Linked DNA regions of Homo sapiens: region 2 is linked to region 1. The links come from fine-mapping of genetic effects on gene expression. A gene starts in region 1. The other region holds a variant in brackets. All regions are shown on one strand. Distances are between the middles of the regions. Region 1 holds the start of WNK4 (WNK lysine deficient protein kinase 4). Region 2 overlaps LINC00671 (long intergenic non-protein coding RNA 671).

Region 1 (13,804 bases):
TGGCTGTGCAGGATCAGAGGGGACTTGAAAGCCCAATACAGAAGGCTCTACGAGTGAGAGACCCTTAAGGAGGTGGAGGCAGAGGCAGGAAGGCACCCAGCCTTTTCAGAGGCCCATTTTGAAACCAGTGTGGCTGGATGGAAGACTCTGAAAGAGTCAAGTGGTTTGACGGAAGGTGATGAGCCTTGTGTGCCAGGTGATATTGTGTCTTTGTCCTGGACACAAGGTGAATGACATGATGGAGGAGATGCTTTAGAGAGGGCTCCTGATGCCTGGTGTTTCTCCCATTCCTTTCCCTCCTTCACCCCATGGGCTGGCATCCACCACCCCCACTCCACTGAAACTGGTCTCCCACAAAGATCTCCTAACAAAAGCCAGTGTGGTCTTGCCTGAGGATTCATCCTATGCCACCTCCTTGAAACTCTCTCCTCACTCAGTTTTGACTAACATCCTCCTACGTCTCTGGCTTTGTCTCTGTGTCCTTCGATGACCTACCCTCCCGCTTCCCACTCCAGAACTGGTGGTATGCGCTGAGACACACTCTGCAACCCTCTGTGTCTCTGGCTTTGCCGGCTCATCTCCCTTCACTCTCAACTCTGTACTGACTACTCCTCCATCCACATCTCTCCAGCCCTGCCTGACCCATATCCATGGCTATGGAGGGTCTTGTCTTGGCTGTCCCTTCTTCACTCAAGCTCATCATGACCTCCTTAAAAAAAACCTTCTTTCATTTCTAATTTCCTCTCTCCTTTGGTGGCCTACTCTCCTACTCTCCTTTGGTGGCCTACAAGTTGTCCTTGACATCCCTTCTCCCTAACTCCCAATCATATCAACTCAGCAAATATTTATTGAGCATCTACTATGTACTATGTTCTCTACTACGTCAATAGGTTACTGGATTACAGAGTAACTTATTTTCCCGAAACAACCCTCAGATTCACCCTTTCTCCTCTTCCCTCCCATAAGCCACTCTCTCCTTTGTCCACAGATGGCTTCCTGGGTCTACCTCCCAGGTATTTTCCCTTCCCCCTTCCACATCCCATGGCAGATGATTTTCATAAAGCCTACTGTCACGTTACACTGTGCCTTTTTGTTTTTTTGTTTTTGTTTTTTTTTGAGACAAAGTTCACTCTGTCTTCCAGGCTGGAGTGCAGTGGCGTGATCAAAGCTCACTGCAGCCTTGACCTCCCAGGCTCAAGTGATCCTCCCACCTCAGCCTCCCAAGTAGTTGGGATGACAGGCATGTGCCGCCACACACGGCTAATTTTTTAAATTTTTTGTAGAGATAGGGTCTCATTATATTACCAGGGTGGTCTTGAACCCCTGGGCTCAAGCAATCCTCCTACTTCATCCACCCAAAGTGCTGGGATTACAGGTGTGAGCCACTGGACCTAGCCTGCTCTGCCTCTCTATTTATTTATTTATTTATTTATTTATTTATTTATTTATTTATTTTTAGACAGAATCTCACTCTTGTCGCCCAGGCTGGAGTGCAATGGTGTGATCTCGGCTCACTGCAACCTCCGCCTCCCGGGTTCAAGCAATTCTCCTGCCTCAGCCTCCCAAGTAGCTGGGACTACAGGCATGCGCCACCACACCCAGCTAATTTTTGTATTTTTTAGTAGAGACGGGGTTTCACCATGTTGGCCAAGCTGGTCTTGAACTCCTGACCTCGGGTGATCTGCCTGCCTCGGCCTCGGCCTCCCAAAGTGCTGGGATTACAGGTGTGAGCCACCACGCCTGGCCTCTGCCTAACTCTTAACATTGTCTATTCTACAATCTGGGCCCACTCTACCTACCCGGCTTCACTCCCCACAACTCTCCTATAGGAATCTTTACTTCCAGTGATAGTGGTTTCCTCATGAAGCCCTCCCAGCCCCATATTCCAAGACACTCTCTACTTGGAATGCCTTTGCTTATGCTGTCCCTGCACAGGGACACCCTTCATGGCCTTTCCACCCTTCACAGCCTTTCTTGCCCATTTGCCAAGATCCTGGGTAAGCTCATTGCCCCTGCTGCCCAGTCCATCCTTCACCTACAGCCACAGTATTGCACATCTACCAGGCACTTATACGTAGCACTTGTGTGTACCCGGTCAATGTGAGTCTCAAATTGCTCCAGCTGAGAAGCCAAACCTCACTGGATAAACAGAAATCTCCCCCAAAACAAGGGCTGAGACATCTTCAGCGTTACTGTGCTAAGTGTCAACCAGAGATTTAAAAATGCTTGCTGTCGGATCAGTGGGTTTCAGCCCCAGCGGACATCAGGAAGGAGACTCTTGTTCCAGATCCAAACACTCTGTCCTCATCTCTCTCCCCCTCACCATGGCAGCTGCAATCTCTTCCGGGCTGTCCCCATCCAGATCAAATCGGAAGGTCACCATCTTGCTGTTATGGGTCTGTAGCTGGCACTCAACCACTCTGTCATTCTGGTCTGAGACCTTCAGATTCAAAGTCAGCAGAGGGGAGAAGGTCAAGCCCTCTTCATCATGCTGTGTCTCCACCCTACCCCAGCCAAGTGACAGCAGCCACAATGGACTTGGAGATAAGTAGACCCCACCTCTAAAGTCTGGTATTAGAAACCAGACTGGCCGCCTCTTGAGTACTAGTCATACACTGCTTCTCCCGTTTTCTGGGTGACCTCCCCCGCCTCCCCCTGACACTTCCCTCCTGGCCCTGTAGGTTACTCTCTATCTCCTGTACTCCATCCTTACACTAGTGACCCGCAGCCGGGATCGGGGTCTGCGCCGGAGATTCCTCCCTGGGGGTCTCCTCATTTGTCCCATCCCTTCTCCCACATCGCTAAGGCCTGAAGCTGCATCTGAGGCATAGCTGTTAAAGAGAAAGGAGAGAGAATGACTGTCAGAGCAGACACTGGGACCCCAGTGCCCCAGGTGTCTCACCCTGGCACCCCAACTTGTACCAGAACATACCTGTCCCCGGGGGAAAAGTCACTTCCAGGGCCAGAACGTGGAATGGATAGGGCAAAAGCCTGAAACAGGATAAGGGTTCATGAGGTCAGGGGAAGATAACTGTTGAGATCTAGGGAGATGGTGTCAAGGATGCTGGGAGGATATTAGGGAGATGGAATTAGGGAAGAGGAGGGCAAGAATGGTGGATTTCCAGGGACATGGGACTGGATCATGAGATTGGGTTTCACAAGGAGGGAGATAGGTCATAGGCTTGGAATGGCTGGGAGCCCCCCATGCGACCCCCTCTCACCGAGGGCAGGCAGAGATGGGACTCAGCCAGGCTGGATGGCACCCCCCCAGGGGGCTGAAGGGCAGGGTCTGAGGCATCCAGGAAGCCGGAGGAGCTGAGGTAGCCATCAGTCTCGCAATCCGCTGGTTGGGGAGGGAGAGGATCAAAAAAAGGGGAAATAAAAGGGAATAGTGGCAGAGGATGGGGCCTGCCTAAGCAAGGAGGGGCCTGGAGCTGTGGGAGAGTTCCTTCCTGGAGGGAGCTTCATGGCTAGAGGTGGAAGGCAGGGTAAGTGACTGCTGTGGGGGTGAACTTCTGGGTAGGGGGCAGAGGCCAAGGTGTTCTGGGACCTACGTCTCAAGATCAGGGGTGACTTACAAGTGGTAGATGAGTAGCTGGCGTGGCGGAAAAGGAAGGGCTGGTGCTGGTCTGCCTCTGGCTCCTCAGGCTCAGGGGGGAAGACACTGGGGGGACCGGGGGCCATGGGCACAGTTGCTGGTGGAGGTCCTGGCTCTGGTGGGAGTGCCTCCAATTCCCTTGCTTTACGCAGCTTCTCACGCTTTCGCTGGATGGCAGCAACCCGTTCACGTACTGCACGGGCCACTGGCTGGTAATCGGCTTCACAGACCAAGCCCAGAGCCACCTGGAATTGGGGTGGGGGATGAGGAACACAGCTTGGGACCCCCTATCAAAGATCCATCAGGACGCCTTCTTGGGAACTCCAGGATATGGGAGGAAGAAAACCAACACTTACTGATTACCCACTATGTCTGTTAACTGGCAGCTCCTTACATTATCATCACTAGATCCTCCAAACAACCTTGTGGGATAAATCTTACCATTCGATTTTTAGAGATTAATGAAGTAGCTGGTTCATAGTTATACAGTAAGTCAGTGGTTTCCAATGGGAAGAAGAGATGTTTGGCACTATCTAGAGACATTTTTAGTTGCCACAACTGGAGGGTAGGTGCTACTGAATCTAGTGAGCGGAAGCCAGGGGTTCTTCTCAACATCCTACAATGCACAGGACAGTCCCTAAAACAAACATGTCAACAGTGCCAAGGCCAAGAATCCCTTGTCAGCAATGGATCAAGATTTGATCTCAGGTCAGGTTGGGCCGTGCTATGGAGACCTGCTCTAAATTTCTAACACATTCTCAGATTCTTGACCTACCGTAGGTGGTCTCCACCCTTGCAACTGTCATGTCTCTATTAAGAATCCCATACTCGGCCAGGCACGGTGGCTCACACCTGTAATCCCAGCAATTTGGGAGGCCAAGACTAGTGGGTCACTTGAGGTCAGGAGTTCGAGACCAGCCTGGCCAACATGGTGAAACCCCGTTCCTACTAAAAATACAAAAATTAGCTGGGCGTTGTGGCTTTTGCCTGTAATCCCAGCTACACAGGAGGCGGAGGCAGGAGAATTGCTTGAACCCAGGAGGCGGAGGTTGCAATGAGCTGAGATAGCGCCACTGCACTCCAGCCTGGGTGACAGAGTGAGACTCCATTACTCCCAAAAAAAGAATCCCATACTCCCTTCAGGACTTCCTAAGCCAGCCCCCAAGCTTCTGCCCTTGCATCTTATGCCTCTCCCCTTCTACCAGCTTCCATTCATCACCTCCTCATTCCTTTTAGCCGCAAGCTTTGCTGAATGAGTAAAGGAGGTGGGGAAGGGTAACCTGATTTAAAATCTGAACCACCTCAGTTTCAATCCAGCTCTTCCACTTACTTACTTGGGGCCCTGGACAAGGTATTCAACCTCTCTGAATTTCCATTTCCTCATCAACAAGTTGAGATAAAACTGCCCCCTATGCAGGATGGGTAGCAAAGATCAAATGCATGTGAAAGTGCTTTAAGCCATGTACAGATGTAGGCTATTAATGAGCTCTTACTATGTGCCAAGCACTGCCAGGGATAGAAGAATCGATAAAACACAGTCTCTGCCCTCAGGGAGTTTATAGTCTAGTGGAGAAGAAAGATAGGAACTTATTCAGGTTTAAGACAGGACCGATAGTGGGGAGTGCTGTAACCGAGAACATGCTGAAGTGGAAAGAAGCATTTAAGTTTGACTCCAAAGGGGACGGCTTCCCGAAATCGATGGTTCTGATCATATTGGAAGAAAAAGAAAAAGAAAAATGGGGAGGGAGGAAAGAAGGAAAAGATGAATTGGCAAGAAGGGCATCCCAGGAAGAACAGATCAGCTGGAGGTAAAGCAGGGACGCTGGAGGACCCAGGGCTCCCTCTGTAAAGGAAAACTGGGTGTGCGTGCGGGTAAGTTAGGGCTGGAGAGGTAGGGAGACGCTGCAGGAGATTTTGAGAGGGGTGAGGTGCCCCGCCCCCATCGCTGCCACCCCTCCTGCGCCCCATCCCTGTTGCACTGTCCCCTCGAGTCAATGTCCTTTACACGTCCAGTGGCAGCACAGTCTGTCCTCCGCTCACCATCTCCTGTGCCACCTCCTCGGCCGCGTCCCGGCCCAGCTGGAACAGGAACTCGATGGCCTGGTTGTCCCGTGGGCGCCCCCCGCGCCGCGCGTCCTCCATGCGCAGCCAGAGCTTGAGGCCCGGCTTCTCGCCGTCGTCCTCCTCCGCTAGTTCCACGTGCACACCGCGCTCCTCGCGGAAGAAGGCGTGGGCCAGGAGGTCCTGGATGGTGAACCTGAGGGTGACGCGTGGGTGAGCCGAGCCCGCCGCGGCCCGCGGCCCTATTCTACCCACGCTCTGCCCTTTCACCCCCACCTCTCGTTCTTATCCGTGCGGATGCAGCCTTCAATGATCTCCTTCACCTCGGGTATCTTCACCTTGTGGAAGCTGTTCGGCTTTCTGCCCTGGGGAAGGGGTTGCATGACACCTCCCGTCCTCTGATCCCCAGCTCTCGGCTTGACACCACCCCCCACCCCTTACTCCACTCCCTCCTTAGGCAGCTGCGCGTGCAGTTGCAAAAGCCTGACTGCTACTGGAAGATGTGATTTCAAATCCTAATCCCCGCCCCCCCCCCAAGTATTTACAGTGTGATCTTGAACAAGTCTCCCGCTGTTTGTTCATCTGTAAATCGCAGGGTGGAACATTTGCCCCGCTCACCTCACAGGGCAGCTGGAAGGATTGGATGAGAGATGGGATGCGAAATCATTTGTGAACTCTTGGGAGCACCACACATATTATTATTCTAAATAGCGTGTACTGGTGGGGGCGCGTGTGCACTCAATATCCTTCTGTGTTCACCAAGGCGACTCTGTGTCTAGCCTGTTTTCGTGCAGGCAAAGGGCATTGACTGCGGGCTGGCCGGCGCAGGAAAAGGGGAAGTGGCCCTGGAATTGCCTTTCCCGCCAGCCCCATCCCTCTCACCGAAGTGACCTTGCGGTAGATTTGCGCGGCATTCTGGCACTCGGAGTACGGGTACTCAGAGGTGGCCATCTCCAGCATGCACATGCCGAACGCGTACACGTCCACGGCCTCATCGTACTTTTCCTCGTACATCTCGGGGGCCATGAATTCCGGGGTCCCTGTAGGGTCCACAGCAGGGATCAGATTGCTGGGCACTCTGGCCTCGTCCTTCCCACTGGGCTAGGCAGCCCCAGGCAACCCTGCGAGTGCAAGTGACCCCGGCCCACAGTGGGGTTGAGGTGGGTGCCATAGGTCTCCTCAGCTTCCCTGTCGTCTGGTAGTTTTGTGGACCTTGAAGGCCCTTGCTGAGGGGAGGGAGTCCCCAGGTTCTCTTCTGAGGTGGGGGAGGAAGGAATGGCATGGACCCTCCTGGAGAGACGCACCGATGACACTCTTGGCAAAGGAGGCGCGCTTGAGCGTGGCCAGGCCCAGGTCCCCGATTTTGACAGAGCCAGTAGGTCCCGTGATAAAGACATTGTCGCACTTGAGATCCCGGTGCAGGATGGGAGGAACCCGGGAGTGTAGGAAATGAAGTCCCCGCAGGATTTGGCGGCTCCAGCGCTGAAGGACCCGCGGCTTCATCTCCCGGAACCGCCTCAGGTACCTGGGGGAGGGCGCATAGCCAGAGTCCTGGTGGGGGGACACGTCCTCCGGGAAGGAGCCCCCCACTGGGAAGTTCCCCCCTGCCGCACCCTGCTGCCGCCTCCGCATCTTCTGCCAGCATTCTCCTAGCCTATGTCTGCCCGGCCCCAGGGAGAAACTGAGTCAGGGGGCATGGTGGATAGACATGACGTTACCAAACGGGTTGGGAAGTAAATTGATAGATAGGGCCTCGGCCAAGGTGCTGTGGGAGCGCAGGAAGGGATGACTAACTGCCCCAAGCATGAGGGAGAGCTTCGGAGAGGAAATACTTTTGTGTTGCATCTTGAATGATGAGTAGGAGCTCAAAGGTGAAAGGGGGAAGGGATGGAGACTTCCCAGGCAGACAGGACACCGTGCTCAAAGGCACAGAAAAAGCCAGTGACAAGGCAGGGTGGGAGGAGGTGCCAGGAATTTGGTGTGTCTGGAGCTTAGGCTGAAAGTGAGGCTGTATCCTAAGGACTTTGTGAACAGGTGAGCCTGTGTGGGCTTTATTCCAAGGCCATGAGAAACTTTGAAGGGGTTTTAAGGAGGGGAGTGACAGTTCAGATTTTCAACTGGGAAAGATTCTCCAGGCTGCAGGAAGATAGGATCGCTTAGAGGGTGGCAGAGTTTGGGAAGGCCCTTTAGGAGGCTGCTGCAGGGCTCCAGATCAGCGAGATGGCATTGAGGTGGTGGCATGGATGAAGCAGTGAAAGCCAGGTGGGGAGAGGTTAAGGAAAGACTTGGGGACAGACTGATGAGGGGGCAGAGTGGAGAAAGAGGAGTCTGGGGAGACACCCAAGTATTTTACTGGAGTGCTGGGTGGACATTGCCACTCACCGAGGCAGGGACAAAGGTTGGGTGAGAGGGAGATGGTGAACCTGGTTTTACACCTGGATATTAGAGAGTTTGAGGAGCCTGGGAGTTCAGGAAGCAGTGGGCACACATCCCAGCCTCCCTCTCCCCACCCACTCATGCGCAGAGCTCACGTCTTGAGCGTGCCCGAGGTCATGAGTTCGGTGACCAGCACGATGCAAACCTGGCCCCTCAGCACCGACTTCCACGAATCATAGAAGCGGACGATGTTGGGGTGCTGCAGCCCCTTGAGCATCTCCACCTCCTCTGAGAAGCGCTGCCGCTCAGCTCTAGACAGTTTCCGAGTCTGTGGGATGGGGGACGGGTGTCATGTCAGGCCCAGGACACCCACAGAAAGGAAGAGGGACACCTGGAGTGGGGTTGGGGGAAGAGGTGAGGGTTGGAGCCCACAGATGGGGTGGGGTTAATGGGATTACTTGCCCAGTGGGCTGCAGACCCTGAACTCTCCAACAGTCCCGCACGTAAGCTGATCCAAGGACACACCCAACCTGGGCCTGGGGCAGCCCCCTAGACCCCCTGCTGGACACAAGCACCTTTATGCAGCCCGGTCCCAGAGCCCTGAGCTCAATAGTGCCTTTGTGGCTGCCCAGGCCGGCCATGGGGCGGGAGGGGGCACCCGGGGGCTGGCAGTGAGCAGGCAGCAGGCGGGCAGCAGGATACTGCGGGCAGGGAATTGGGGCCGGCAAGGGGGTTGGCCCCAGAAACAGAACTGCTAGATCCAGACGGAAGGCGGGAGGGATATGGAGGGAGGTACTGAGAAGGAAAGAAAAGATCCAGGACTAGGCGCCAGGAGGCTGCCCACCCCCATAGTCGTCCCGCCCCGGCTCCTCTCCCTCCCCTCACCCCCCAATTTGGCTGCCTCTCCTGGCCTGGCCCAGAGCCTGGGGCGCGGCACTGGCAGGCGCAAGGGGCGAGCCCTGTGCCAGGGCTGGAGAGGGACCCTTCCCCTAGGCTCTGTCCCCTGATCTGAATCGGAAGCTTCAGGCCCCAAGTTGACTGGGTTCTCCTAACCCATATGTAGCATGGGAGCAATGGGAGGAAGGTCCCCCTAAAGCCCATGGGCTTAGTGCCTTTAGGTCTGGGAAGGGAGAGCACAGGTAGGCAGTGGGATGAGGAGCAGAACTGGACTCACTCGAGAGCTGGAGCTCCCTATGTCCCCCTCCTCGCAGCTGTGGAGAAGTCCAGAAGTCTGACTGCTCCAGAAGGGGTTAGGGGGCCCTATTCTGCCACAACTGCCCTAAATCTTCTGGAGTTGGAGATGACCCTTGCCCAGCTCCTGGCTTCCCGCATCCCAGCCTCCTGGTCTGCAAATAGGTGGGGGACGGGAGGAGTGAGGGGATCAAGAGGACCAGGGTCATAACTGAGGATCTCAGGACTTAGGGGAGAGGAAGGGATTGCGGGTACCCACCAGCAGGAAACTGACCTGAACTGGCTCCCCTGCCTAACTTCCCATCCTATTTTCCACCTCTCAGGGTTGAGTATGGAGACTTTAAAGTGAGAATGTTCATACCCATGGGGGAGTCACCAGACACCACCTGCCTCAATCTCTCCTTCTGCAGCCCAGAGTCAGCCAGATCATTCAGGGCAAAGACAGCAGAGGTGTCTATAGACATTTGACTGGAAAAATACATGCTTCCCTTGATGCTGTCTCCCCCACCCTCTGTCTGTCATCCTAAGACCTCCAGAGTCCCATCCCAAGGTGCCACCGAGGGGGCTCCCAGCCGCACCTGCAGCTCACACCAGGCCACCTCCACTGTGGTGTCGGTGTCTAGCCCTCGATACACCGTCTTGAAGGAGCCACGTCCAATCTCGATGTCAAACTTGAGGTATCGGCCATCGGGGGACGTTGCCACAGCCTGGGTCTCCATGTCCTCCTTTTCTTCCTGCTCCCGCCGCCGCTCTAGGGCCACAGCTTCAGGGACCCTTAGCGGCTCCCTGGACCCCGGGCCCACTGCAGAGTCCGGGAGCTCGGGACGCGCGGAGTCTTCCGCAGCCTTCACAGGGGCTCCCTCGGTCCACGTGCCCTCGGGGGGTTCTTTGGAGCTAGGCGGTGGGCTCCTCGCGGGGCCAGGACCAGCGGAGTCCGGAGGATCGGGGGGGTCCGGAGCGGGTGAGGCTGGCAGGGACCAAGAGCTCAGCAGCCCCAAGTCGACTGAGCTACGGCGGCTGAGACGAGAAGAGCGCGGCCGGGGCTCAGCCTTCCCGGAGAAGCGGCGCGCTCGGCGAGGAGGGGGCCCGAGGCGGGGCTGCCCCGCGGTGCCAAGAGGAGGCGGGGGCCGCAGGGCCAGGTCGGCCTCAGTCTGGGACATGAGGACGGTGGTCTCCGTGGCCGGGGATGCCAACATGAGGAAGAGCAGGGCGCCGAAGGGTAGAAAATCAGACGGCCGGAGAGGAGGCGGCCTGACAGACGGACTCGCTGGGTGCGCTGCGCTCCGGCTGAGCGGCTGCGGCCCCAGCCCCCAGCTCGGCCTGGCCCCGCCCCCGTCGCCGCCCCGCGGCCCGCCCTTGCCCCCCAGGGCCGCCCCTCCGAGCTGCTCCCGCGGTGCGGATCCCGCGAGCAGCCCCTCACCTTAGTCACCGCCCCGCCCAGCCGCGTCCCCTTCTTTCCCGAGCCCCCGGCCGCAGTCTCACTCTGAGGCCAGAACTGAGTGGGAGACCGCGGAGCATCCTCCCGCACTAAGAGTGAGCAAACCTGTTTGTGCGCGGAGGAGGGCAGGAGAGAACGACACCCGGACCCTAGTGGGGGATTACTTAGGGGGAGGCTACCACCCTCCTGCACACCCCAGATAAGGCAGCACCACCCCCTCCTAACTGTCCGGAGTAGCCCCAGGCCGAACGGAGAGGTCAGTGGAAAGGTCTGACGTTGTTGTCCCTCTGGTCTGCATAGGGAATGGGTGTGTACTCCCCAGGATAAGTCCCTCCCCCAAACCGAGAGCCCGGTCATCCATCCCCTCCAGGCCACCTTGGCCGCAGCCTAACCCTGGCCAGAGTGGCTGTTTTTGCTATATGGGCTCTCCTTCCTCCCCTTCTGTTTGCCAGTCTCCAATAAACCAAAGTCCACATCCGGCTTACCCCCCTCAGCTCCCCTTGGCCACAGTTACCCCACCCAGACCAGATGGGTGGAGGGAGGGGCTTCAGAGTAGTTCAGGACTTCCATGAGGGAGATGGTGAGGGAAGGGGGAGCCCTTAAGTGACTCCAATTCAGAGAGAAAGCAGTCTGTCCCCAAGCTGTGTTCCATCAGCACTCCTCCACACAGCCCACCCAGCAGATGTAAAACCACAGGCTCACTGGAGCCCACAGGGCCCTGGAGGACCTTTTCTTCTACAAAAGCCATAAGCTTTCTTTTCTCTCCCCTCTCCCAGGCTGGGATTTACTCAGGTGGCAACACTTCACAGCCCTCCCCATCCCCATTCCAGTACTGTAGTAATTTAAGAGGCAGGCAGTGGGAGTTGAGATTTTAATATCATAAATCGGTGTGGGGCCACACCTCTCACTGCCAGGCCCGTGGGCCTCCTATCTTCATATTGCCTGGAAGGCTGCCTGCAGCCAGGGCTTCCCCCATCCCCTAGGAAGGATCCAGCACCAGCCTGAGAAGGGAGGCAACAGCAGCTAAAGGGGTGGGAGGAGGAGGAGACAGAAGCATGTGCTGCAGGCGCATGTGTGTATGTACTTACATGTGTGAACACATATAAAGTGTCAGGTTTACAGACCCTGGCTCAAGGACAGTCTAGGATGGGAAAGGAGGTAGGGCGAGAAGAAGCACATATTTTCTCCCTGGTGCTTCAGCCTCACCCTATCCAAGGGACAGACATATGGGGTGTGAGAAACCCATCCCCAGGTCCCAGCCTTCAGGACTGGAGTCCTTTTGAGTCTGGTGGAGTCACAGATCCAGTCTTTGGGGGACACTGGGTCTGTCTCCTTTTGAAAGCCCTGGAAAGGTGGGAGGTAAGAAGTAAAGGGAGACAGGTCCCTGCTAGAAGAACTTGACGCCTCGGCCATCGCTGACAGTGATGATCTCGGCCTTGTGCTCCTGCTGTAGGGCCTGCAGAGCCCGCAGTAGAGTGGCTTCATCCAGCCCGTGGAACTCTGAACAGGGAGAGATAGGCAGAGACAATCAGCTCCTGAGGCCCAAGGCCTCTGAGGAGAGTGCTCTGGCTGGAAGCCGAGACCTCCCAGAGGCAGGGTATGCATAAGCCATCTATACTGCTACAGCTGCCATCCACACTTCCCAGGCACTCCTTAGGAGTAAGGGGTGGAAGAAAGCCTGAATCAGCATGAAATGAGTTTGTGCTTATTTCCCCCTTCTTGGTTCTCCTCTCAGACTCAGCCTCCCCCACACCTAGCATTTGTGTCTGATGCACGAGAATGACACCATCTGCTTCAGGGCCACAAAGGGGCCGTGAAAATCAGGCCTAGGGAGATCGGAGCCATTGTCACTAGACACTGACCCTAGAGGATCTATCCTAACACAAAGAATATAGCCAGTACCCCTGGCCAGGAGACTGTTAAACTCCAGCACTATTATCTGCCCTTTTTCTAGCTTTTAGCTGGGAGCACAGGCCAGGCGCGGTGGCTCACGCCTGTAATCCCAGAACTTTGGAAGGCTGAGGTGGGAGGGTCACTTGAGATCAGGAGTTCTAGACCACCCTGGCCAACATGGAGAAACCCTGTCTCTACTAAAATTACAAAAAATTAGCTGGGCATGGTGGTGGTCACTTGTAATCCCAGCTACTCAGGAGGCTGAGGCAGAAGAATCACTTGAACCCGGGAGGTGGAGGTTGCAGTGTCAAGATCGTGCAACTGCACTCCAGCTTGGGGGACAGAGCAAGACTTTGTCTCAAAAAAAAAACCAAAAAAATTGGGGAGCCTATGGCTAGCTGAGTATGTGGAGATATGGTAAGATACTGCAGGGAGATGTGGGAGGCAGCAGGCAAGCCCTGACAGGCTTGCTTACCTCACCCCCTGTGGGGGCTCAGCTAAGTCAGGGAGCTTGCTTTCTGAGGAAACCTACAACTTTGCCCAACCTGAGTGGTGGGCTAGGCAAGGCTACAGTGCTGAAATCATGGGGTGATGGTGGGAGTAGCAAGCAGAGACCTGCAGGGCAGCAGGGGGAACAGCCAAGAGCTATAAACTCTGCTAGGGCAGCCAGGGCCTGGCAGAAAGGGGAGACACCCTCTGTTATCCCAGCTAAGATCGAAACTTGTGGTGATCCAGAGGATCAGAATCTGGAGTCGGAGAAAAAGAACTAAGAGTGTTTACGCTATGTAAAAATCAAACACTATACAAATCCTTGCCTGGCCAGAAACCAAAGTATATAAATGGGCTGGGGGTGTTGGCCTAATCTCTTCAGCTGACACCCACAGATCTTGAGCCCTCTATAAGAATAAAGGGTGAAAGAGAGCCTGAGTCAGCAAGGAATGAGATTTCAAGCTTAATCCCCTGCCCTTGTTTCTCATTCGGCATCTATAGCAGATGCTGAATGAAGAAAGTTATTTATAATTTTTTTTATTGTTATTATTTTTATTTTCTGAGACGGAGTCTCGCTCTGTCATCCAGACTAGAGTGCAGTGGTGCGATCTTGGCTTACTGCAACCTCTGCCTTCGGGTTCAAGCGATCCTCCTGCTGCAGCCTCCCAAGTAGCTCAGATTACAAGCATGCACCACCATGCCCGGCTAATTTTTGTATTTTTAGTAGAGACGGGGTTTCACTATGTTGGCCAGGCTGG
Region 2 (14,997 bases), 93 kb before region 1:
GTCACTGTCAGGGCAGGCTCTGTGATGCTCTCTTTCTGAGGGAGACGGGGTCTTCTCACTCTGTCGCCCAGGCTGTAGTGCAGTGGCATGATCTTGGCTAACTGCAGCCTCTGCCTCCCAGGCTCAAATGATCCTCCCACCTCAGCCTCCCTAGTAGCTGGGACCACAGGTGCATGTCACCATCCTGGCTAATTTTTTTTTTTTTTTTTGGTATTTTTGTAGAGAGAGGGTTTTGCCATGTTGCCAGGCTGGTCTCGAACTCCTGGACTCAAGTGATCTGCCTGCCTCAGCCTCCCAAAGTGCTGGAATTATAGGTGAGACACTGTGCCTGGCCCCTTTCTGCACCTTCTGATGGACACATTCTTTATGTCTTAGACTCTCTAGTCAGCTTCCTCTTGGGAGGCTTGGAACTGAACTACCATCTCCAGAGTTCTCCCAACCTTGGCTACACAGTAGAATCACCCGGGGAAATTTAAAAGCCAGTCATGTCTGTGGTTTGCCCCCAGAGGCTCTGATCATATCAGGCTGAGGCGCAGTCCGAGTATGTGGAGTTTTACAAGCTTCCCAGGTGATTTCAATGTGCAGTCAAGGTTGAGCACCTTTGTGAAAAGCAGCTCTGCATATTTCTGCCCTTGTCATTTGAGTGATGACTTTGCTCTGAGAGGGTCACTTAATATGGATCAGGTGCCAAGGGTTTCTCAAGCATTACCTTGTTTCATTCTTTTTTTTTTTCTTACAATATTCAGATGAGTCTGATACCTTGTTTAATTCTTCAAACAGGCCTACCAGGCAGTGGAAAAAGAGCCACGGCCCAGGGAAGGCCGTGAGGTGTAATTCTGCAAAGATCTGGGTTCACTCCCAGCCCCACCTTTTACCAGCCAGATGACTGTGGGCATGTTTCCTAATCTCTCTGAATTGTAGTTTCTGCATCTGTGAAATGGGTGTAATTAACATCTGCCTTTCAAGGTTGTTATGCGGATTAAGTGAAACAAAGATGGAAATTATCTGGCCCAGAGTATTCTGTCCTGTACTGGCTTTTCCTTCTCAATAGGAGAATTGGGAGTGACAGACATCACATTCCTTGGAGGTCCTCGAGAAAGGGAGAATTCCCCATCATATTCTGACCCGGAGATGTAAAGTTAAGAGGCATAAGGGGCTGGGTACTGTGGCTCATGCTTGTAATCCTAGCACTTTGGGAGGCCAAGGCAGATGGAATGCCTGAGCTCAGGAGTTTGAGACCAGCCTGGGCAACATGGCGAAACCCCATTTCTACTAAAAATACAAAAATTTGCTGGGGATGGTGGTGCGTGCCTGTAGTCCCAGCCATTTGGGAGGCTGAGGCTCAAGAATCGCTTAAGCCCGGGAAGCAGAGGTTGCAATGAGCCGAGATCATGGCACTTGCACTCCAACCTGGGCAACAGAGCAAAACTCCGTCTCAAAAAAAAAAAAAGTGGTATAAGAGACATGCAGCATGGAGGTGTTTGAGACCCGGGCCCTACTGAGAATGCTACAGCCTCTTTCCCTTCATATGATGAGGTTTCTGTGGCAGCTACAGGGAAGCTGGGGCCAGAGGGTCTGAGAGAAGAAGCAACAGCCTCTGAGAGGGAGATGAGGGGCAGATGGAGGGCCTCGGGCCAGCTCCCACTTCCAAGAACCATCAGAGAGGTTTTCTTGTTCCAGCAGCATCTCCCCTGGGCCAAGCCAGTCGGGGGGCCATGTCTGTCTGTCTGGGACCCACTGTCTCCCCCGCCAGCACCTAGCACAGTACCTAGTGGACAAATTCTATTTTTATTTTTTTTTGAGACGGAATTTTGCTCTTGTTGCCCAGGCTGGAGTACAATGGTGCAATCTCAGCTCACTGCAACCTCTGCCTCCTGGGTTCAAGCGATTCTCCTGCCTCAGCCTCCCGAGTAGCTGGGATTACAGGCACCTGCTACCACGGTCAGCTAATTTTTTGTATTTTTAATAGAGACAGGGTTTCATCATGTTGGCCAGGCAGGTCTCGAACTGCTGACCTCAGGTGATCCACCCACGTCGGCCTCCCAAAGTGCTGGGATTACAGTTGTGAGCCACTGCGCCCGGCCCCTAGTGGACAAATTCTACCACTGATGTCAAAGAAAATTAAACTGCAGCCTCAGCACTGCTGCAGGCAGCCCCGAATGTTTCCTCTTGAGCCTCCAGAGTGCATCTGCCCCAGACACTCATTTGCCATCTGACCAAGGAAGGCAAGAGGGTGATGGGGACACTTTTCTAGGCCAGAATATGGAGAGAGCATCTGGACGTCAAAGTCTTATGTCTTTTTTTTTTTAGACAAGGCTGGGGTACTCTGTCCTTCAGGCTGGGGTACGGTGGTATAATAATAGCTCACTGCAGCCTCGGACTCCTGGGCTTGTCACTTGATCCTCCTATCTCAAGCTTCCCAAGTAGCTAGAACTATAAGCATGTGCCACCACGGTCGGCTAATTTTAATAATTTTTTGTAGAGACAGAATCTCACTCTGTTGCTCAGGCTGACCTTGAACTCCTGGCCTCAAGCGATCCTCCTGCCCCAGCCTCCCAAAGCGCTGGGATTACAGGCACGAGTCACCCTGCCTGGCTAGGATTCCAGTGTCTTCAGATAGTTCCTTTGATGCGTAACAGGTAGGCTGTGGTTGGACCTTCCAGTGTCAGAGAAATCTACCAAGGCCTAAAAAGCTTTTGAGTGATTTAAATACATTATCACTTTCCAGATGAAGAAATGGGTTCAGATGGGGTGCTTACTCACGGCCACAGAAACCCTAAGGATGAGCCCAGCTGACTCCCTGAATCCCTTTTAGCTCTGAGCCTGTGAGTTGGCCATGTAAAAGCCATTGTCCAAAGCCAAGATCCAACTGGGTCATTCTTCCACTTGATAGCAAATTGGAACCAACCCAATTGCCCAATGGGGAATGATTTGTTTACTATCGACTTGATAGAGTACCTCTTATCCTTTAAAAACCATCCATTTGGCTGGGTGCAGTGGCTCATGCCTGTAATCCTAGCACTTTGAGAGGCCTAGGCGAGTGGATTACCTGAGGTCAGGAGTTTGAGACAACCTGGCCAACATGACAAAACCCTGTCTCTACTAAAAATACAGAAATTAGCCAGGCGCGATGGCGGGTGCCTGTAATCCCAGCTACTCAGGAGGCTGAGGCAGGAGAATCGCTTGAACCCAGGAGGCTGAGTTTGCAGTGAGCGGAGATCGTGCCACTGCACTCCAGCCTGGGCAACAGAGCGAGACTTCATCTCAAAAAAAAAAATCCATTTGAGTATTACATGACAACCTGTAAAGATGCTTATGATTAATATTAAATGGAAAAAGTAGAATACAAAAGTGTATTTAGACTGTGCTTACCTAACTAGGTAAACGCATGAGTGCATAGAGACAAGAACTGCAGTTTCACTTAGGTGAATGACAACGGGATGTTGGAAGGAGATTTGGGTGTCTTTAAATTATTGTCACATTGTTTTTCATGCAGCTTAAAGGTCTGGATCATCACTGCTTACAGATGAAGTACACACTGCCTCGCATGGCCTCCAAGGCTCTGCTCACCCCACCCCCAATCAGCCTTTGCCATTCTGCCACCCTCACCCCATGCTCCAACCATTGGGGCATTCACAGAACCACGAGCCTTCGTGCCTCTGTCACTGCCAGAACACTGTATTCCGCAGTCCACTACTTGACTAAATTCAGCTCATTCACCACTTCAAATGTCACTCCCCAACTCCCAACAAAAAAGATACAGAAGAAACTCACCATATTATTTGACTTCAGGGAGGAACTATTATCAGATGTGGGATGGAGACATAAACCCTTTTCTGAAATACAATTTTATTGAGCTATAAGTCACATACTGTATCATTCGCCCATTTAAAGTACATAATTCAATGGTTTCCATGGTGTTTGGTACATTCACAGAATTATGCAACCATGACCAGACACAAGTTCTTTTGTGCCTTTAGGATTTCGAACATGTGAATGTATTACTAATTGAATTAAATAAATGAATCCAATTAAACACACATAACCATCACTTCCTCTCTGAAGTCCTCCCAGACTCCCACCAGGGATAGATGGCTCCTCATTCTGTGCCCCACTTGTCTGTCATAGCTCTTTTTTTTTTGACAGAGTTTCACTCTTGTTGCCCAGGCTGGAGTGCAATGGCACGATCTCGGCTCATCACAACGTCCACATCCTGGGTTCAAGTGATTCTCCTGCCTCAGCCTCCCAAGTAGCTGGGATTACAGGCATGCACCACCACGCCTGGCTAATTTTGTATTTTTAGTAGAGACAGGGTTTCTCCATATTGGCCAGGCTGGTCTCAAACTCCTGACCTCATGTGATCCACCCGCCTTGGCCTCCCAAAGTGCTGAAATTATAGGTGTGAGCCACTGTGCCCGGCCAGTGTTTTTGTTTATAAAAAGACCTCTCCGCAGCCCAGACTCTGAGCTCTTTGAAGGCAAGTATGAAGAGAGTCATTTTTCTGTACCAATGCAAGTCTGGCATTCAGGAAGAGTCCCAGAAACGTTCGATGAGTGAATGAAGTTTTCTTTGCATCCGTGTAGATGGGGCATGGTAGGAGAGGCCAGAGGATGACCCAGCCCTCCTCACTTTGATCCTCATCTCCACTCCAACTCCACCTTCCCCCTTCCTCATCTTGTTCCTTATCCTGTCCCCTCCCCATCACCAACCTCCCCCCTATTCCCTCTCCACCCCCTCTCATTTCCATCCTGCTCCATCCCCACCCCCACTCTGTTCTCCAAATCCATTCCCATTTTGACCTCCATCCATCTTTATTTCTTGAATAGACCCAGTTTTCTGAAATGCAAAGATGTATTGCTGGCCTCTTAGAAATAGCAGTGGGAGCTCTGTGGGCTCAGAGACACCCTCTTCTCCTGAGTGTTCCTCCCTCCACCATGACATCACTATGAAGGCAATTTTATTTACCACAACAAATATTACTATAGAATTAACAGGGGCCCAACACATGGCAGGGACTGGAAAATACTTGCTGAATGAGTAAAGGACTTGTGAGTCTCTGGGGCAGCTGAATGAGACTGTTTCCATCACAGGACCCAGACGGGGAGGAGGAATGCCAGAGAAGCTGCAGACTCTCCGGCCACGGAGCCTGAGTGGAGCAGAGGTGGCCCACTGTCAGCCACAGGTCAAGTGTCAGGGTGGGGACGGGGCAGGCTCCACCAGAAGGCGGGGGCAGGCTCCACCAGAAGGCGGGGCCAGACCACAGGGCAAGGTGGAGATGAGTCTGTGGCACCCCCAGGAAGTTTACCAGATTTGCCCCAGAGCTTCTGACCCTTTGGATCTCTCTGGGCTGCATTCTTCAGGGTCCCATTGCTTCTTTCTTGAAGGTGGAAGGAAATGTTCCCATCAGAGCCTTCCAACAGGCCACCTTGGGGGCTTCTCCTGAGAGCTCCTTGTGCACACACCCCTTCAGGGTGGCTTGGGTTGCGCCCTCAGACCCCAGTGGGGGGCCGTATGGCATCCTCCTTGGTCAGCAAGTGAGCCACAGCAGCAGGCCCCTCACAGACCTCAGCCTGGGGCCACAGGTCCCTTCTCCCCATCTCCGCATCTGGAGAAGCAACCTGTGGAGCAGCCAAGAGTGGCAGCCCTGGCTCTCTACAGCATTCATTTTCAGGGCAAGACAGAGCATTTCCACTATTATGCTCCCCCCCCCGGCCTTTTTTTTTTTTTTTTGAGACAGGGTCTCACTCTGTTGCCCAGGCTGGAGTGCGGTGGCGCAATCATGGCTCACTGCAGCCTCGACCTTCTGGGGTCAAGTGATCCTCCCAATTCAGCCTCCAAATTTCTTTAAACAAAAAAAAATGCAAGAAAGGCAAAACAAGATATTTATCTGGGCTGAGAGGGTAAAGAGAAGCTCTATCTTTGAGCTGAGACACAAAATGGAAAGAAGAGGCAGCAGCAGCGGCAGTAGCAGTTCTGCCTTTCCAAACCTTCCCTATCTAAGTGCTTTCAAGATATGCTGAAAGTCATGAATTGAAGTGTGGTTCCCACGGCTTTAGTCCTTGTATGAAGGTCCTTTTGCTAGAACTTACTTCCTTTCCAGCCCATATGGTTGACCTGGGGGTCCAGGCAGTTCTCAAGGGAACCACAGGATTCCATGTGATCTGGGATCCCAGTTGATGATCCCTCTTCTGGTCACAAGCTGAATTGGACCCAAATCTGCACCCTAAACTCCCCTCTTGCCAGATCCTGCCCAGTCAGTGCCGTCCCCTCAGACTGGGTGGGCAGCCTGGGCTTCCTGCTGAGACGGGACCCCCCCCTCTCTTCTTGATCTCACTCCCAGGAAAGACACTGAAGGAGCAGAGGTGTGGACGCCACATACTGGGTAAGTTTCTCTTGCCTTGACACACCTGAGAAAGCTTGGTGTTTGAGCCCTACCTCCCCCTTACCTTACTCCCACTCCCAAATCCCCTCCTGGAAATTGTCCCGGTTCTTATTTATGCCTATACAAAGTCCACAGCCCATGACGGGCAGCCCTGGAGGCTGTTGCCCTGACCTGGCCTCTGGTCCCCCGCTGGGAGGCACGTGGCTCATTTGCATGCCAACTCCTGATGGGCCAGCTCCCCACCTGGCTGCCCGAGCTCCTGAGACTTTTTTTTTTTTTTTTTTGAGACGGAGCCTCACTCTGTTGCCCAGGCTGGAGTGCAGTGGTGCGATCTCGGCTGACTGCAACCTCCGCCTCCCAGGCTCAAGAAATTCTCCTGCCTCAGCCTCCTGAGTAGCTGGGATTGCAGGCACGCACCACCACGCCCGGCTAATTTTTGTATTTTTGCTACAGACGGGGTTTCACCATCTGCTGGGACGGGACACCCTCTCTTCTTGATCTCACTCCCAGAAAAGACACTGAAGGAGCAGAGGTGTGGACGCCTCATACTGCGTAAGTTTCTCTTGCCTTGACACACCTGAGAAAGCTTGGTGTTTGAGCCCTACCTCCTCCCCACCTTACTCCCACCCCCAAATCCCTTCCTGGGAATTGTCCCGGTTCTTATTTATGCCAATCCAAAGTCCAAAGTCCACAGCCCATGAGGGGCAGCCCTGGTCCGGCTGGTCTTGAACTCCCGACCTCGTGATCTGCCCACCTCAGCCTCCCAAAGTGCTGGGAATACAGGTGTGAGCCACTGCACCTGGCCACTCCTGAGGCTTTTTAGTGCCTACCCTCAGTGACTTTCTGGTCACCTATGCTGACTGCTGCAGAGTAACAGAGGCTACTGTCACCAGGGCCCTGGGACCAGATGACCCTTCATCTTTTTCATCCTTCCACCCACAAAACCCCTGGGCTGCTGCTGACACTTGACCATCCTTCCCCCTCACAAATGCATATTCCGCATGGCCTGTGTAAATGGCAGGAACTTGTAAGAGGATTATTAGTATAGGCAGATGACAAGATGACAGGAGAAACATTTTTTTATGACAATGAAATGCAGAGAGGCAAGATGAAGAAAGCTGTTCAGAGACATAGGTCCCCCAGAAGGAGATAACCAAGCATTGTCCTTCTTCAAACAAGACAGTACCTGCAGATCCAAGGCTAACCCAGCCCAGGGGCAGAGGAGGACACCAGAAGTAAGGAATGCAGGAAGGAACTACAAGACCTGAGGCAGCAGGGACGCTCCCACAGGACCTCCGCTACAAACAGCAGGGAACAGGCCAGGCGCAGGGGCTCACACCTGTAATCCCAGCACGTTGAGAGGCCGAGGCCGGAGGATCACTTGAGGTCAGGAGTTTGAGACCAGCCTGGCCAAATGGCGAAACCCTGTCTGTACCAAAAAATACAAAAATTAGCCTGACGTGGTGGCGCACGCCTGTAGTCCCAGCTACTTGGGAGGCTGAGGCTGGAGAATCACTTGAACCTGGGAGGTGGAAGTTGCAGTGAGCCGGGATCACACCACTGCACTTCAGCCTGGGTGACAGAGAGAGACTCCATCTCAAACAAAAACCAAAAAACAAAAACCAGCAGGGAATAGAAGCTGAAGTAGCAGGAAAACCGAGAGGAGGAGGACTTTGTCAGCATGAGAGGGAACAGACAG[A/G]GAGAAGGACCTGCTATTCAAGGCCCAAAACTGAGATGCACATCTACTGGGGAACCTGCTCTGGGGCTTTGGGAGAACAGTCTGGTCTCTAGAGGCTCCCTATTCACCTTTAAGACCCAGGGCAGTCCAGGCATGGTGGCTCACGCCTGTAATCCCAGCACTTTGGGAAGCCAAGACAGGTGGATCACTTGAGGTCAGGAGTTCGAGACCAGCCTGGCCAACATGATGAAACTCTGTCTCCCCTAAAAATACAAAAATTAGCCAGGCGTGGTGGCGGGCACCTGTAATCCCAGCTACCTGGGAGGCTGAGGCAGGAGAATCGCCTGAACCTGAGTGGCAGAGATTGCAGTGAGCCGAGATCATGCCACTGCACTCCAGCCTGAGCAACAAGAGTGAGAATCTATCTTAAAAAACAAAAAACAAACAAACAAACAAAACAGGACAGAGGAGAGCTAAGGTGGCCCAAAAGAGCTTCCAAATTTACTGAATGCCACTAAACTCTCACTTAAAAATGGTTAAAGTGGCCAATTTTTTTTTTTTTTTTTTGAGACTGGGTTTTGCTATTTTTGCCCAGGCTGGAGTGCAATGGTGCAATCTGGGCTCACTGCAACCTCTGCCTCTCGGGTTCAAGTGATTCTCCTGCCTTAGCCTCCCAAGTAGCTGGGATTACAGGCGCATGCCACCGTACCCAGCTAATTTTGTATTTTTAGTAGAGATGGGGTTTCACCACATTGGCCAGGCTGGTCTCGATCTCCCAACCTCAGTTGATCCGCCTGCCTCAGCCTCCCAAAGTGCTGGGATTACAGGTGTGGGCCACTCGCCTGGGCCAAGGTGGCAAATTTTATGTTACATATATTTTATACAATTTTAAAAGAAGGAAAAAAGTATAGTCACTTTGGAAAACAATCTGGCAGTTTCCCAAAAGGCTAAACATAGAATTACCGCATAACCCAGAAATTCTACTCCTAGGCATATACCCAAGAGAAGTGAAAACACATATCCACAAGAAAACTTGTGCATGAATGTTTATAACAGCATTATCTATAATGACCAAAAAAGTGGAAACAACTCAAATACCCACCAACGGATGAATGGATAATCACAATGAGATATATTGATACAATGAGATATCATTTAACCATGAAGAAGTGAGGCACTGACATACACTACAACATGGATGTATCTCACAAACATTACGCTAAGTGAAAGAAGCCAATCACAGAAGACAACGTATTGTTTGAATCTTTTCATGCCAGAATACAGGCAAGCCCAGTGGGACAGAAAGTAGGGAAGTGGTTATCTAGAAATGGAGAGGGATTGGGGGGAAATAGAAAGTGACTGCTAACACATACAGGGTTTCCTTCTGGGGTGATAAAAAATGTTCTGGAATTAGTGGCAATGGTTGCAAAACTTTGTGGGTATACTAAAAAACATGAAATTGGGCCAGGCACAGTGGCTCATGCCTGTAATCCCAGCACTTTGGGAGGCCGAGTCAGGTGGATCACCTGAGGTCAGGAGATTGAGACCAGCCTGGCCAACATGGTGAAACCCCATCTCTACTAAAAATACAAAAGAAAAAACAAAAAATTAGCCAGGCGTGGTGGTGGGCACCTGTAATCTTAGCTACTCGGGAGGCTGAGGCAGGAGAATCACTTGAACTGAGGAGGCAGATGTTGCAGTAAGCTGAGAACGCACCCTTGCACTCCAGCCTAGGCAACAAGAGCGAAACTCTGTCTCAGGAAAAAAAAAAATCATGACATTGTATATTTAGTTTTATTTTATTTTATTTTATTTTGAGATGAAGTCTCACTCTCTCGCCCAGGCTGGAGTGCAGTGGCGCGATCTCGGCTCACTGCAAGCTCTGCCTCCTGGGTTCACGCCATTCTCCTGCCTCAGCTTCCCAGGTAGCTGGGACTAAAGGCGCCCACCACCACACCTGGCTAATTTTGTTTTTGTATTTTTAGTAGAGACGGGGTTTCACCGTGTTAGCCAGGATGGTCTCAATCTCCTGAAGTCGTGATCCACCCGCCTTGGCCTCCCAAAGTGCTGGGATTACAGGCGTGAGCCACTGCACCCGGCTGAAATTGTATACTTTAAAGGGATGAATTTTATGGTATGTGAATTATGTCTCATTAAAAAAAACAAACTGTTAAGAAAACCAGGAGTGGTCTGGAGAAATGCTTAGCCACGGCTCCAGGCTCCAGGCTGGGCCATGCCTCACCTCTCTGGATGGGAACTCAGCACAGCTGGCATCAACAAAGCTGACTGTCCCCTGTGTCAGGCATCACAGGGTCAGGAGGCTCCTGGCTCAGAGGGGGATGTGAAGGAGGGCAGTGGAGGGAAGAGAGTCCTGGCACAGGGAAGAGGGAACCAGGCTGCCGGCCCAGTGCCCAGCTGCTCCCCATCCCTCACACCCTGGCCCTGGAGCCCTTGGCCACATGCCCCATCCCAGGACCGCCTAGTTGTGAGAGAAGCCCCCGTGGGAGAAGGCAGGGAGGTCGGGGGCACAGGCAGCAGCCTGGGGCAGGCAAGCTAGGGGGTTGACCTCGCAGGCCCCAGCATCCTGGTCCCCTCGGAAGTAGATGGAGTCGGCAGAGTAGAAGGAGGGGTCTTCGTCAAAGAAGTTGTAGGGTCGGAGGAAGAAGCCCACGCTGTTCCCCACAGTCACTGTGTTAGGAATGTCCTCTGCATGTGGGATATGCAGAAAACCAGCTGTCACCCAGGCCACCAAGTCCTAGCAGGGGAGAAGAAAGAGGATCACGAGGTCTGGCTTTGCTGAGGACATGCCCTGCCTCCCACAGTGACCTTGCAGATAGGGAGTCAGCTCACCCACCTGTATGTTCTTAGTTTCTCAGGAAAAATCTGAAATCATAAAGTTTCTTTCTTTCTTTTTTTTTTTTTTTGAGACAGAGTCTCGCTCTGTCACCTAGGCTGGAGTGCAGTGGTGTGATCTCGACTCATTGCAATCACCACCTCCTGGGTTCAAGCCTCAGGCACCCGAATAGCTGGAATTACAGGCACGCGCCACCACACTCTGCTCATTTTTGTATTTTTAGTAGAGATGGAGTTTCACCATGTTGCCCAGGCTGGTCTCGAACTCCTGAGCTCAAGATATCCACCTGCCTCAGCCTTCTAAAGTGCTGGGATTATAGGCATGAGCCACTGCACCCGGCCAAAGTTTCATTGTTAGTGGTTTCTGAAGATCCCTGAGGAATCTCGCTTCTGAGGCAGTGAAGTGGCTCATCTTGTCCCCCTGACTCCTCCCCTCCTCTCCAGCTGCCTGCTCACCCCTCCGCGCAACTAACCTGCCCTGCAATGGTCTCATTGTTGATGAAGTCAGTGAAGTCCACAGTGGGTGTCCAAGGGTCATTCAAATTGTAGATGCTGGTGCTACTAGGTTCCTCCTCCTTCCGCTGGGTTACCACCAGCTGGTACCTACAGGAGTTTTTTATTAGACCTACAAGTTCGTCAACTGTCCCACTGCCTGAAGCTGCACTGAAGAGTGAACACTAGGGGGAAATGAGCCCCAAAGTCTTGGAGTATTGAGCCTCTGTATCATTCTTTGTCCAGTTCTCCTTGCCTGTCTCTGTCTCTCTCTCTCTCCTCTGCAGACTTCCCCCACTTGTCCACTGTCCTGTACCTTAAACATCAACTGGCCCACCAGGCTTCAGGTAGAAATGTTGCTCATCCATCCATCTGGATCAGAGCATGATGTTGAGCCTGGGCCTTGGAACCATACATATGGACATGGCCTGTTTCCCATCCTAGGTCAAGTTCAGTATCTCAAATACCTAGATTTCAGGGAATCCTCCCTCCGATCTGTGTTCCCATCTCACTGTTTTTTTCCTCCAACCTTTAATGTGAACATTTTAAACATACAGAAAAATTGGAAGAATTGTATAGTGAACATCCACATACTCAAGTCTAGCGTCTACCATTAACATTTTCCTAGATTTTCTTCAATGCCTCATATCTCAGCATTCCTCCACCCACCCATTAGGCTTTGTTTTGAGTGCCTACAGATTGCGGCCACAGGAATGTGTGTGTGTGTTTGTGTGTACCTGTGGGAGGTGGAGCAGTGTGGAGCCCTTCATACATTCTACTTGCCCCACTCCCTCCTGACCGCCGACCACTCACCTCCCCCAGCTGAAGCCTCTCTCCACGGAGCTGTTCTGGGGCAGTGGCTCCCCAGAAAAGCTGCGCACCTGGATGCGGTAGCCCCGGGGGTGACCCCACTTGTTGCTGTGGTTGCTGGCCAGGTACAGGTAGCGAGGGGTGGCGCCTCCCATGGGGAAGGTGGCTTGCTCCTCTGTCTCCAGCAGCTTCCGGGTCACCTGCAGCCTCTGCATCTGGTGCTCAGGGCTCCAGGGCACAGCCATGGGGACAAAGGCCATATCCTCGGCCCAGACCCAGTTCTCCAGTCCTGCTCAGGGTGGGATCGGGGAGGGCCAGTCATGCAATTGCCCTGGCCCCTCTGGACTCTGCCCCCACCTGGCTTCAGAGTGGGGGCAGAGTGGGGGCCAAAGAGCAGCCCAGAACTGAGTGTGCCCCTGCTTCTCTTCCCTCTCCCCAAGATAGTCCCAGTCCAGGGATTTGGAGGAGGGCTTTCTCCCTTCTGTCTTCTCTGGTAATAATCCCAGATGCCTTGCGACTGGGCCTCCACCAATGTCCTCCCTCTGAGGGGCTGCATGGGAGGGTGTTTACCTGAGGTTGGAACAATCCTGTGGGCAATAGGCAGGTGGCACTCCCTCTGACCTGAAGACTTCTCCTCACATGTGAAGCCCTGTGGCATTGCCAGGACTGCCTTATCATGAAAATAAGCCTCACATTGACTCAACCTGAAGGAGCTGTGTAGGGAGCATGCCGAGTGCCTTCTGTGTATTCATGCTTTCACTTCTACAACAATCTCAAAAAGGAGGAACTATCATTGTCTCCATCTTACAGATGGGACAACTGAGTCTTAGAGCATTCAATAATGTACCCTGGTTGGTCAGCAAGGACACACGGTTAATATCATGGCAGTGCTGGGGACCTGGTTCTTAGTCTGGCCTTACACTGCCCACACATCAGCACATAGAGGAAGACAGCACAGAGAGACACCACAACAGAACAGCAGACATGGGGACCAAGGGGAAGGAAAACCAATACTGGGCCCGACGCTGTTGGGGCTTGGAGATACCTTTCGCAGTTTGAAATTTGGCAGGGAGCAGGGAGCGGGGCTTAAGACACAATCTGTTTCCTGAACTTTTGGAGTCTGAATGATTTTATTTGAGTCTAACTAGGTCCCATATTAGGAGTCAAGTTAAGTGATCTGAGACAAGGAGCAATAAATCAAAACATGCTGGTAGCTCCCTCTGCACCTTCCAAAGACCAGGAGAGAGGAGAGACTGATTCAGCAAACCCTTAGTTTCCTTTTGTAGATTCACTGCCCCTACTCCATATCCCAGTGTTTCCACCCTTAGGTGACAATTGCCGACTAAGAGTTTTTTTTGTTTTTTTGGTTTTTTTGAGACAGAGTTTCGCTCTCGTTGCCCAGGCTGGAGTACAGTCGCATGATCTTGGCTCACTGCAACCTCTGCCTCCCAGGTTCAAGTGATTATTTTGCCTCAGCCTCCAAGTAGCTGGGATTACAGGTGCACACCAGCATGCCCAGCTAATTTTTGTATTTTTAATAGAGACGGGGTTTCACCATGTTGGCCAGGCTGGTCTCGATCTCCTGACCTCAGAAGATCCACCCACCTCAGTCTCCCAGACTGCTGGGATTACAGGCGTGAGCCACTGTGCCCGGCCAGAGACTAAGAGTTCTTTATGGTCCACACACACAAGTAGGCTCCTGTGGCTAATCACAACAATACCTAGTATTTCTCAAGGGCCCACTATGTGTCAGGCACTGTTCCAAGTGTTTTAAAAGTTGTCATCATTTAATAACAGAGATAAAGATAGATGTGTGTGTATGGGTTGGTTGGAATATATGCTTAAATTTTCTAGCTAAGTCCACTGAGAGGGCCTAAAAGCAATGACATCCCAGTAATAATGAGCACACTTGGTGCCCAGATATTGGTTTCTAAATACCATTCTCCAATAAAGTGAACCCGATCTCCCTGGAGACAAGGTTGATTCCAGGGTAGAAGCAGGGAAAATGCCAGATGAAATTGAAACATTTTTGGGTGCCAGAAAGTAAAGAAGTGCTCAAAAACGTGTGGAGGTATGTGAAAAGGACATAGGAACTAATCTGAAGGATCTCCCAATGGCCAAAGTTGGAAAAATGTAAGGAACAAAATAAATGAAGTACTGGGTTATAACCCTTAGAGTACAATAAAAAACCATGAGTCTATACAATTTGAATAAATAATTGAAAACAGAAATAAAAAGGAAGGACAACTCTTCCTTATGGAAAATTCCAATTAATAAATGTATAAGGAATAAGGAAAAAATTTTAAGGATAAAGAAAATGTCCTATATATACATAATGAAATACTATTCAGCCTTAAAAGAATAAAATCTCATTGCAACAACATGGATGAACCTAGGGGACATTATGTTAATTAAATAAGTCAGATACAGCAGGACAATACTATATGATCTCACTTATATGTGGAATCTAAAAAAAGTTGAACTCATAGCAGTAGGAAATAGAATGGTGGTTATCAGGGCCTTAAGGAGGGTGGAGTTGGGAAGATGTAGCTCAATGAATAAAAAATTTCAGAAGTTCAAGAGATCTATTGGACTGGGCATGGTGGCTCATGCCTGTAATCCCAGCACTTTGGGAGGCTGAGGAGGGAGGATCGCTTGAGCCCAGGAGTTCAAGACCAGCCTGGGAAACATAGCGAGATCCCCATCTCTATAAAAAAAATTTTAAATTACCTGAGCATGGTGGCATGTGCCCATAGTCCCAGTGACTCAGGAGGCTGAAGTG

The links. PIP is the estimated chance that this variant, and not a neighbour inherited with it, causes the effect.
Region 2: its variant is fine-mapped to the expression of WNK4 in esophagus mucosa (GTEx, PIP 0.98).

The regions. Positions count from the first base shown.
Region 1 is chr17:42,777,317-42,791,120 of GRCh38, reverse strand. WNK4 (WNK lysine deficient protein kinase 4) reads right to left here and starts at 10,511. Exons shown (of 19, transcript NM_032387.5): 1 at 9,805-10,511; 2 at 8,191-8,363; 3 at 6,964-7,184; 4 at 6,542-6,699; 5 at 5,936-6,024; 6 at 5,639-5,855; 7 at 3,579-3,843; 8 at 3,222-3,343; 9 at 2,933-2,991; 10 at 2,714-2,831; 11 at 2,324-2,440. The coding sequence starts at 10,422. It overlaps VPS25 (vacuolar protein sorting 25 homolog), which reads right to left. Exons shown (of 6, transcript NM_032353.4): 6 at 11,522-12,164. The coding sequence ends at 12,052. RefSeq lists enhancers at 6,455-7,086, 6,992-8,191, 9,481-10,438.
Region 2 is chr17:42,869,912-42,884,908 of GRCh38, reverse strand. It overlaps LINC00671 (long intergenic non-protein coding RNA 671), which reads left to right. Exons shown (of 6, transcript NR_027254.1): 3 at 223-314; 4 at 5,091-6,382; 5 at 6,836-6,934; 6 at 10,046-10,235. Among named protein-coding and RNA genes, the nearest start is that of LINC00671, 21 kb to the left of the region's middle. RefSeq lists an enhancer at 6,580-7,109. The variant A/G (reference allele first, on the strand shown) is at 8,082.